Linked DNA regions of Homo sapiens. The protein of the gene in region 2 purifies or fractionates together with the protein of the main gene of each other region. This does not show direct contact. Each region holds a gene or a part of one and is shown on either strand. Other genes may lie near its edges.

Region 1 (3,732 bases), on a different chromosome or scaffold from region 2:
GTGAGCTATGATCGAGCCACTGTACTCTAGCCTGGGTGACAAAGCAAGACCTCATCTCTAAATAAATAAATAAATAAATAAATAATGTTTTTAATGGGGTTATGTGGTTTCCTGAAAAATTGCCTGCTGGGGCAACAAGGGGTCCTCACTCCCCAGGCAGCAGTCTGACACCTAGCTCCCCAGCTCCCCAGCTCCCCGGGCTGCCTCAGTCACATGCCTGCCTGCACCAGGAGGCAGGCTGGGCCCCTGCCACAGATCCAGAATAGAAAAGGCAGCCCTGGAGACCTCTTAAGCAGCCACCCCCTCCACACACCCCTTGGCAGCTTCCAGGGTGGCTTTATTCTCCTCTCTCTCCTGACGAGGCGGTGGCAGCAGAGACAGCAGCAGCTTTGGCACCAGGACCTGTCCCGTACACTGCAGCCACATGCACTTGGCCCTCCTAAAGGATGCCACCTGCTAAAAATAGCACCAGCACATGCTTGGCCAGGTGAGCCACACCAAAGCCAAAGGACAAAGCAGGGAGGTTATTTGCAGCACGGCCTTTTCTCCCAGAGACAGCTAAAGGCACAGCTGAGTGTGGGTCTCCCTCCAAGGCAGTTCAGGAAAGTGAGAATCACTCCTGCTCCTTTTTCTTGGGAGTGGCAGAAAGGAGGGGCAAGAAGGAGTGTACAGAAGACTGAACTGTCCTTCAGATCTGTCATCGACCCAACCTCACAAAGGCACATCCAGGCCCAGGCCAGAGAAGGGATGGGGGCTGGGGCTGTGCTTGAAAAGATCTTACTGCCTCCTCTAATCAGGAGGCCAGCTACTGCTGGGTGACAGCCTTTGGAGGGCCAGGAGATGGTCTGTGACCTCCAAGTGAGGTCTGACAGGTGTCGGGAAATTAGTGACTTCAGGATTGTCTTTTTCAATCAGCTCAGTCTTCAGAGCAGTTTCCCTGAGCCCTCAGGCACAGCTTTTTTTATTCATAGTCATTACTTGTGCATTTCAAAAGCACCCGATGGTTGCATAATTCTGATGATAAAATATGGCTTTGGAAAGACAAGAGAGTTAAGAGTAGGATCCTGTACTTCAGTTTCCCATAAAATGAAGATGTTCTGTAATAGGGAATATCTCCCTCACAGAGTTGTAACGAGGCTGAACACACTTAAGTCAGACTCCATATGTGGGATCAATGATTTTAATCTTTGTAAAACCCAGTTTAGTTTCCTGAATGAGGATGTGGTGATAAAGGGGCAGTAAATAAGCAACAACCAATGAGCATGGGGGGCGGCAGGGGCAGAGGAGGAGGTGGGGAGCACGCCCCAGCCCAGGTCCAAGCCAGTCCAGCCCTTGCTGTGTCCAGGGACCAGTTTACTCTACTCGGATCTTGTTTCTTCACCCACAAACTAATCACTGTACTAACCTCATAGGGCTGACAGAGAATAAAAATGACACAGAAAAAAAAAAGCCACTAATATGCCAGTAGGTGCTCATCAGTAAGTGTCCTTTATGCTGCCTGGCTCCAAGAAAAGAGATCTCACATTATATATACCAAAGGTCAATCTAGCAGGGTTCAAACAAAGCACACCCAGGACTAGAAGAGGGGGCATCTGGAAACAAAGAACTCCCCACCCCTGCCACAACAGAACACGTTAGCATCCACGCTGTGGCCCCACTCTCCCCCAACACCTTCTGTGAAGAATGGCCCCTAACATTTAGGTGGACTGGAAACAGCAGAATGAAAACACAACCTCGTTTAAGAGAAGGGCCGCACTGAGATCTGTAGGAAGTCATCAGGTGGGTGAAGGACCAAGTAACAATATGTTGACATCTGACATTTGGAGACCAAGGACAAACCAGCAGGGATCTTTATGATAATAAACGGCTTCAAACCAAAAGGGCTTTCTAAGGGCTTAGCATCTGGACCTTTGCTTCACGCTCCTGTCCCCAGGTCCTTTCTGAAGGTCCTCACTCAAACTGTTTCAAAACTGTTCGTCCACTCCCAACTGGCAGACTAGAACTCACTTGTAGTATGCCATGGAGACAACCAGTAGATAATTTGTCACCAAAGCTGTTGGGTTTATGGACTCTGGAAGACTAAGCTCAAACATGTTATGCTTTAGAGATTTACAAGTTGAGACAATTAAGCTTTTAGAGTTGGAGAAAAAAAAACTTTCTAGGCCGGCGCTGTCCAACAAAACTTTCTTCGATTATGGAAAATGTTCTTGACCTGTACTGACCAGGACGGCAGCCACTAGCTACACGAGGCCACTGAGAACCTGAAATGTGGCTAATGTCACTAAGAAATTTTTTTAAAAATACTTTGAAAAGTTTAATTAGTCACACAGCTAGCAGCTACCCTACAGACAAGGCAGCTCTAAACTCCCCACACCCAGGACAAATTTAGGCAAATAAAGCTATCTTTAAAAATAAAAAATATTTAGAACAGTAGCACACCTTAGAGCTAAGAACTTGAGATGAACAGTGAGTTGTTTTTTTTCCCCTTAAGTCTTTGACATGTACTACCCATTGAGCTGTGCTCCCCAGCCCAAACACATCACTCCAGTGGCCCCTGGGCACGTTTGGTCTAACTCCAAGGCTCCCAGGACCATAATCTGAATACTGATAATTTTGACCAAACCTCTTTTAGCCACTGAATAAACCAAGATCTGGAAGGCCAACCAGCCTGCCTAGAATCACCGCCAGGTTTCAGCTCTGAGAGCTGCAGCAAGTCCCAGGCTCTTGTCAGCTAAGCCCAGCAGTGAAACAAGCCTCATCAGCCCTAGGTTATACATATTTTTACTTCCAGGACTCACCTCAGGGCCCTTCTTTGCTCCCAAGTGCAACTGGGCCTTAGTGACACCTGGCTCGGTGAACACAACCAGCCACCATTACAGAACAGGGAACACAATGTTTACCACTGACTGCTGCAAACTATCAAACCAAGCCGGAAAAACAACCAGATGGTGAAGACCCGGACAGAATGTGGACAAGGCTGCACCATTTAGTAAAATGAAAAAGTTAAGGCAAAGGACACCTTGAAAGCTATTTATTGCTGGAAAGCTAGTTCTCAGAATGCTGAATGATAACACACACAATGTTAACAATCTACTTAGAAAGCAGCAGAAAGATTAGGAGAAAAGCCCAGGGATTTAAGAATATTCCTTGGTTCTTCTCACAAAAGCCATCCAGAGGACCTAGTTTTAACTCCACACCCACGCTTCCTAGTTCCTCTACCCCTCAATTTGAATTTGTGTGACAGCCACTGAAACAATCCAGAATGACCTCCAGCTTCACCCTCACTGTTCTCAGAGGTGTGAGGATTAAAGGATTAGTGTGCTCATAACTCACCTAGCACAGTAACTATCAAGAAAGAGGCATCCTCTCAAGTTTAGCTCCCAGCTCCCCCACTACCTGTTTCTCCAGCCAGACTCTGTCCTACTTCAAACATGCTCACTGATGATGTTTTCCACAGCCCAAGCTTCAAATTAGGTACCAAGGCCAGGAGGTTCCTTCAGTGGGATGCCACATGTGATGGGAACTTAATGTTAAATGATCATAAAAGTGAAAACTGCCTGAGGTATTACACCAGGAAGGAACATGGAAGAAACAGAACTTGCCCTAAGAAGCAAGATTTAGGACTAAAATACACCCCCCACCATAAAGATGAGCAACTCTCAAACAGTATATGAGATGATTTCAATGGGACAAGATGCCCACAGGATCTACTACCTCCCCATAGTGGAAGAA
Region 2 (2,880 bases):
CTCCTTTAATTGGAACTTGAAAATGGTGTCTGCATTGGAGTGTGGCAGAGAGCAGGACTTCAGACTCTGGCTGGATGGACCCCGGATTGAATCCTAGCTCTGCCACTCTCTTGCTGTTTGGGTTTGGGCCTCTCCCCTTTCAGAAGCCTGTTTCTTCATCTGCAGTCTGAAGATGAGCATCCCTACTCACTAGGGTTTTTGCTGGAATTAAATGAGTTGATGCACAGAAAAGCTTCTATTATAGGTCTGGCAAACTCCAGGAGTCCAGGGATTGTTAGATCTCCTGTCCCACAATAGAGCAGGAGCCAGGTGACTTTCTGTATTCAGCAAAGAGTAACCGAGAGGCATGTGGGAATGATGTGGCTTCCAGTACCCAAAAGCCCCAGTTCTGGAAAACCTTTTTTTTTTTTAATTAGATTTTTGAAAAAATTGGATTCCTCGGCCAGGAGTGGTGGCTCACACCTGTAATTCCAACACTTCGGGAGGCCGAGGCGGGCAGATCACCCGAGGTCAGGAGTTCGAGACCAGCCTGACCAACATGGAGAAACCCTGTCTCTACTTAAAGTACAAAATTAGCCAGGTGTGGTGGCGCATGCCTGTAATCCCAGCTACTCAGGAGGCTGAGGCAGGAGAATTGCTTGAATCCGGGAGGCAGAGGTTGTGGTGAGCCAAGATCACGCCATTGCACTCCCCCCTGGGCAACAAGAGTGAAACTCCATCTCAAAAAAAAAAAAAAAAGAAAAAAGAAAATTGGATTCCTCAATCCAGGATCTCTTGCATTTGGAGAACTTTAGGCTTTCAGCTGTTGCATGCCTAGGCCTTGTCATAATCCAATAAAGCAGGATATGGAACGGGATATTGGATATGGAAGGGGATAGGATTGGTGGATGAAACAGAGAAAGGGAGAGAGAGACAGAAAACACACACACACACACACACTCTGAGAGAGAGAGAGACACACACAGAGAGAGAGATTCCGCTGTAACAAACTCTTGGAAGACAGAAAGAGGAGGCAAAGGAGAGGAAGGGCCAGTGACAGCTCTGCTGCTCTGAAAGTCAAGGGGCCCTTGGCTCACTGCCTTCCCCGTCCTTCCCTGGGGCCAGGTGCGCTGGAATCCTAGATTCCCTGGGAGTGAGGGTAGGTACCATGACGGCATGAAGTCACCTCCCACCACCTTCAAGACTTCCCACTGCCAGTCTGTAGCCTGTGTGTTGAGTCCTGGTCCAACCCTGAGTCACCCGTGTGAACTGGGGTCAGTGATTGGTCTCTAGTTCTCCATCTCTCCATCTGAAGAATGTGAATAATAATTTCTGACTTGGCTGTTTACAGGACCGCCGTGAGGATCCAAGTGCACAGTGAGGTGGGGGGAGGCAGATACATGGATTCCTTTCCACGTGGCCCACAAGAAACACCTGTCCCTCCAGACTCGGGGACCACCAGGGACCTTGAATAGTTGCCTTGGCAACTCATTGCCTGGCTAACTCCCACTCCTTTGGGTTTCAGCTTAAACATCAGTTGTGCAAGATCTTCTGGACCCCTAAGTTGGGTCCTCCTCTTGTAAGCATTCATAGCATTCTCTACATACCCTTTACAGCACTTTTATGAGTTGAATAGCATGGTTATTGGTGTGCTTATTTGTTTCACACCTGTCTTTTGCACTAAATTCTAAGCTCTCTGAGGAAAAGGAATATGTTTCTGTTGCGTACCATCTTATCACCACGTAGCAGTGGGTGCTCCATAAGATCCTCCTGCGTGAGTAAGTGAATTCCCTGCCTCATCCCTCTCTCATGCCTTAGCATGAGGCCTGAGGCCAAGAGCCCGTCCATCACATACCCCTTGCCCAAAGCCTCCTTATAACGGTCAGGAGAAGGGTGGCATCTCCTCCTCTCCCTTCTAACTCAAGGAACAAATCACTGGCTACATGATAGTTGCCCTTCCTCCCATCCTTCCAGCATAGTAGCCCCTGCCCAGGATCCAAAAGGCAGAAGGTGAGTAATTGCTATTTTTATTTATCTTTGCACAAGGCTGCCCTCTGGTGGTCGAACATGTAGGAGCGAATGGGAAGGATGGAAACCCCAGTAGCCAGGAACCAGCCCAGCTGGCTGAGCCAACCACGCTCAAGAGACTGGCCAGCGAGCCAGGGAGTAGGTAAGTGCTACAAGAAGCGCATCTGGGTGAAGATTCGTGTCAGTTCTCCATCCTTATGAATGGCTCCCTCCAAATCTAACAGGAGGCCCTGGCCTCAGAAGAGCAGGAAATGAAGGAATGCCCTATAGAAATCTTACCTACCTCAGCCCCAGTAGGATGGTGTGCAGGTAGGGGGAGCTGGTTTAAGTAGCTATTCTTTCTCCTCAGTGGTATGCAGGCAAACATTTTACAGTCAGCTCTCAAAAAAGGAAATCCCAATTTGTAGTGTTTACCAATTTCTGTAGTGTAAATACCCCTACCATGGCCCATTTTAAACCACCGATATGATGTCACTGAATGAGGAGCTGGAAGAGATGCCCAGTAGCACACCATTATCTAGAGTTTCCCCCATACAGACACCATGGACAGAAATAACTTCAAGGGCACGATTAATAGTGAAATATAGTAAACTAATTGAAAATGATGATTTTTGAATAATTATTACATTTGTTTTCAATATAATATATTTAATTGTGAGTTTATATAATTTAATTTTTCATAATGGCTGTGTTTAACAACTGACTTGCAAAATTCTGGAAAATTTAGTAATCGGTTCCTGCAAGTAGTAAGAGCTGGCTCCAGCACATCACTGCTCTCCTCTTCCCCACTTCTTCCTTCTCTTCCTCCTCCCCCTCTTCCTCTCCCACAGCTTTCTTGGCATTCTGTGTGGGTGCAAGAGATGGGGAATATGG
Region 3 (3,500 bases), on a different chromosome or scaffold from region 2:
TATGTATTTTGTAGAGAGCTTTTTAAAAATTCTATGTGATTATCACTAGAGTCATTGGGTAGAAAGTGGAAAATATTTGAAGTATAAGAAAGGACTCTTAACAGAGCTGTCAATCACTGAGTTGATTGCCTTGGGAAAAGTGAGTTTATCATCAAGGAAATCATCACACACTTGTCAGCGGTGTTATAGAGGAGGTCAAGCACTGGATAAGTAATTAGATTTAATCTGTGGTTCTCAACTTGTTTTTTTTTTCCCATAGAGAAACATATGGCAGATGGCATTGACCTGCTGTGCACACGCTCTTATGTGGTTTCCTATAAGCCAGGGCAACCCAGTATATTTTTCTCCTCCCTAGAAAGTATATTAAAATGCAAGTAAGTATGAGGTTGTTACCACAGAGATAGCCTTAAGTTTGCTTTAGCTTATTAGAAACAAAAAGCAAATAATTCACAAGTTCTAACGCTTTGAAGAGGAGAAAATTATTGGGACCAACCTCACAATGACCCTTGACATCCAGCCGGTCCTCTGGGACAGTTGACCACTAAAGTCCATTCTAACTATGAGGGGTTTTGATTCTGTGAGTAGAGCACCTACAATTTCTGGCTCTACACAGAAGTTACTCACATGGAGAAGTTGGAAATGAATGCTCCTTTGGGGATCTGAACATCAAACACGACATTCTGAGGCTGCGGGGAATTGTTCACCACTTTGCTCTGGATCATGGTGGTGGCCATCCGAGAAGTAATAGTAGACTGGACTTTATAGCTATAAAGAGTTACTTGATCAACCTCTTCCTGAAATTGGCAAGAAAGCATAACTGTACTGATAGAAAAATCACACAGAACTTCATCAAATGTAGTGCATTTGATGTTAACAACACTACATTTTACTTGTTTTACTAGCAGAACAATTCCAGGGCCTTGGTAAGGACAGAATTCATGTATGGTTAAGCATTCTCCTAACTTCTTGGAACCCGCAATGAGCAGAAGTCTGCCTTGGTTTCAAGATACTTTGAGCTAAAAGGCATTTTTCAGCCCTATGAGTCTATAAATAATGATTTTTCAAAAATTAGAATACAAGTAGAAAACGGTGTGGGAAGCCAGATTGGATTGAGGAAGTCCAGGTAATAACTCCAAATGCAAGACCATCAGCTGGGGAGAGGATACTGGATTGCGAGGTTGAAAGAGGAACTTGGTTGTATCTTTAGTAGGGGTCACACAGGGGTGCTGTGGGGTGGAAACACACATATGGCCTCCACCAACCCCCCCTTACAGCTCTCTACCTTCTTTAATCTCCTCTATTACAATTTCATCTGCAGTCCTTTTCTCCTCCCCCAAGTCAAAACAAGCTAGGAGAACAGTGACGGGTGTAAGCAAGAGACATTGATCTTGGACAGGGCATTCTGATGCAAGTATTGGTCCAACACTCTGGACCTCCTTACCCGATCACTACTGATTTAAAGCAGCTCCTGTGTGAAGAATCACATATGTAAGTGTGCTCAAAGGCAAGGTCCTAGAAACCCACACCTTTCAGGAGGTGACTGAGAGCTGCAAGCTCCTTCAGGTCTATGGACAACTATGAGACCCATTAGATTTTGCTTTTTTCTCCAAAAGAATTTACTTATCTCAATACCAGGTCTCATTCCCCAAACTTTGTAGTCCAACATTAAACCTTTCGACTAATTAACCATGCAACTCACCTCAAGCTAAAATAAAATCCAGGCTAATCTATGTGTCCTTCCTCCCCCTGAAGTGTGCACTTCTGGCAGTTTCTGCCAATTCAGGGCAGGAAGCACAACATAAGCCACTTGTCCTCAGGCTGTTTTCTTGCCACAGGATGGTCTACTCTGAACATCTCAGGGAACTGGGCCGTTTTGTGTTTAAAAGTTCCTTTCCACGGGCACTCTTTTATTTTCCAAAGCTGTCAGGTGTCATACTTTAAATCAAAATGGTGCTGGAAGCAATGGCTCATGCCTGTAATCCCAGCACTTTGGGAGGCTGAGGGAGGTGGATCACCCGAGGTCAGGAGTTCGAGACCAGCCTGGCCAACATGGTGAAACCCCATCTCTACTAAAAACACAAAAATTAGCTGGGCGAGGAGACATATGCCTGTAATCCCAGCTACTTGAGAGGCTGAGGCAGAGAATCTCTTGAACCCAGGGGGCAGAGGTTGCAGTGAGCTGAGATCATGCCATTGCACTCCAGCCTGGGCAACAAAAGTGAAACTCTGTCTCAAAAAAATAAAAATAAAAATGAAAACGTAAAAATAAATACATAAATCAAAAAGGTTGAGTAGGAATAAATACATAAATTTATACAGTGGGAAGGAACCTATGATATATGGCAAAACTCAAGAAAATGAAGAGAAGGGCCCCTTCAGCTCTTGGTGGCCTCTCTCCTGTCTGTAAAGACTGCACTCTTCAATGCTGAATTTTAGAAACACTTGCAAACAGTTGGGCAAGGCAGTATTTCGAAAGTCAGGTAAATACTCGGTGATGAAGAAAAAAGAGACACCCAGATTGATTTCCTGGTAATTATTAACAGGAAAATCATTCAATCTGTAACAACATCAAGTCAACTTACCATCATTTCTTCCGATTCTCCTGGAAGGCTTCTCTGTGAAAGGAAGTTAGACAATCATTCTTCAACTGTATGTCACTTATTACCTTGAGAGCCAAAACCGTTTTCTCAGTCAAAAAAGAAATTTTATTTTTCTTCAATACTGAGCTGTTATTCATTCACTGGAGTTGAGACATAAATATTGAATATTCTTGAAAACTATTTTCCCACTGGTGAGTTTCTCAATAAGTTTCTCAACCAGTTCTGGTGGCGTGTGTGTCATTCTTGGATATAATGCTAGAACAAGTAATTTTTAAATAAAAATATTCAACCAAATGCATCCTGGGTAGCGTATATCCCCTTGATGCTATTTGCTCTATTTTTTACTCAGTTGAATGGAGACTTTGATCCTCCATTCGGCCATGAGGCTGTGGGCATGCTGTTCCCACTGTTTGCAGTGCCCCTGCTAGGTTCCTCAACCCCCATATGGAGAACTCCTACTCACCCTTCAGATCTCAGCTCCAGCAGAATTCCTCCAGTGAAAATCTCTAACACCCCAAGACTAGGTCGGTTTCCTTTACTAAGTGTTTTTGCAGCAGCATATTCCTTCCTGCAGAGTGCTCACCTTGTTTCATAATGATTCATTCTATTTGAGGGATTATTTGACTAAAGTCTGTCTCTTCCTTTAAACTAAGCTACATAAAAGCAGGGATTTTCATGTATTTCCTCCACAGTGTAACCCCTGAGGCAAACACAGTGACTGGCACCTAGAAAATTCTATGCTTTTAACCACCATGCTAGGAGATTATCCATACACTTGACTGTCCTGAGGAAATGAACAAAGGCGATTCCCTTGCCTTTGAAAGTGAATGGCTTAAGGGTGGTGGGTGAACATGTAATGTTTGGTGAGCTGTTAATAATAGATCCAAGAAGTCGGGTGTT

Evidence for each region.
Region 1: the proteins of OPTC (region 2) and AKAP1 purify together in Homo sapiens (affinity purification with mass spectrometry; one large-scale study listed by BioGRID and IntAct). This does not show direct contact.
Region 3: the proteins of OPTC (region 2) and ITIH2 purify together in Homo sapiens (affinity purification with mass spectrometry; one large-scale study listed by BioGRID and IntAct). This does not show direct contact.

Annotation. Positions count from the first base shown.
Region 1 is NC_000017.11:57,088,033-57,091,764, reverse strand, and holds part of AKAP1 (A-kinase anchor protein 1, mitochondrial precursor), read right to left. Parts: intron 1-3,732.
Region 2 is NC_000001.11:203,504,011-203,506,890, reverse strand, and holds part of OPTC (opticin precursor), read right to left. Parts: exon of another isoform or gene 2,838-2,880; intron 2,613-2,837; exon of another isoform or gene 1-2,612. UniProt on the Homo sapiens protein: Inhibits angiogenesis in the vitreous humor of the eye, and therefore represses neovascularization. Binds collagen fibrils.
Region 3 is NC_000010.11:7,706,316-7,709,815, reverse strand, and holds part of ITIH2 (inter-alpha-trypsin inhibitor heavy chain H2 precursor), read right to left. Parts: intron 2,616-3,500; coding exon 2,583-2,615; intron 795-2,582; coding exon 625-794; intron 1-624. UniProt on the Homo sapiens protein: May act as a carrier of hyaluronan in serum or as a binding protein between hyaluronan and other matrix protein, including those on cell surfaces in tissues to regulate the localization, synthesis and degradation of hyaluronan which are essential to cells undergoing biological processes.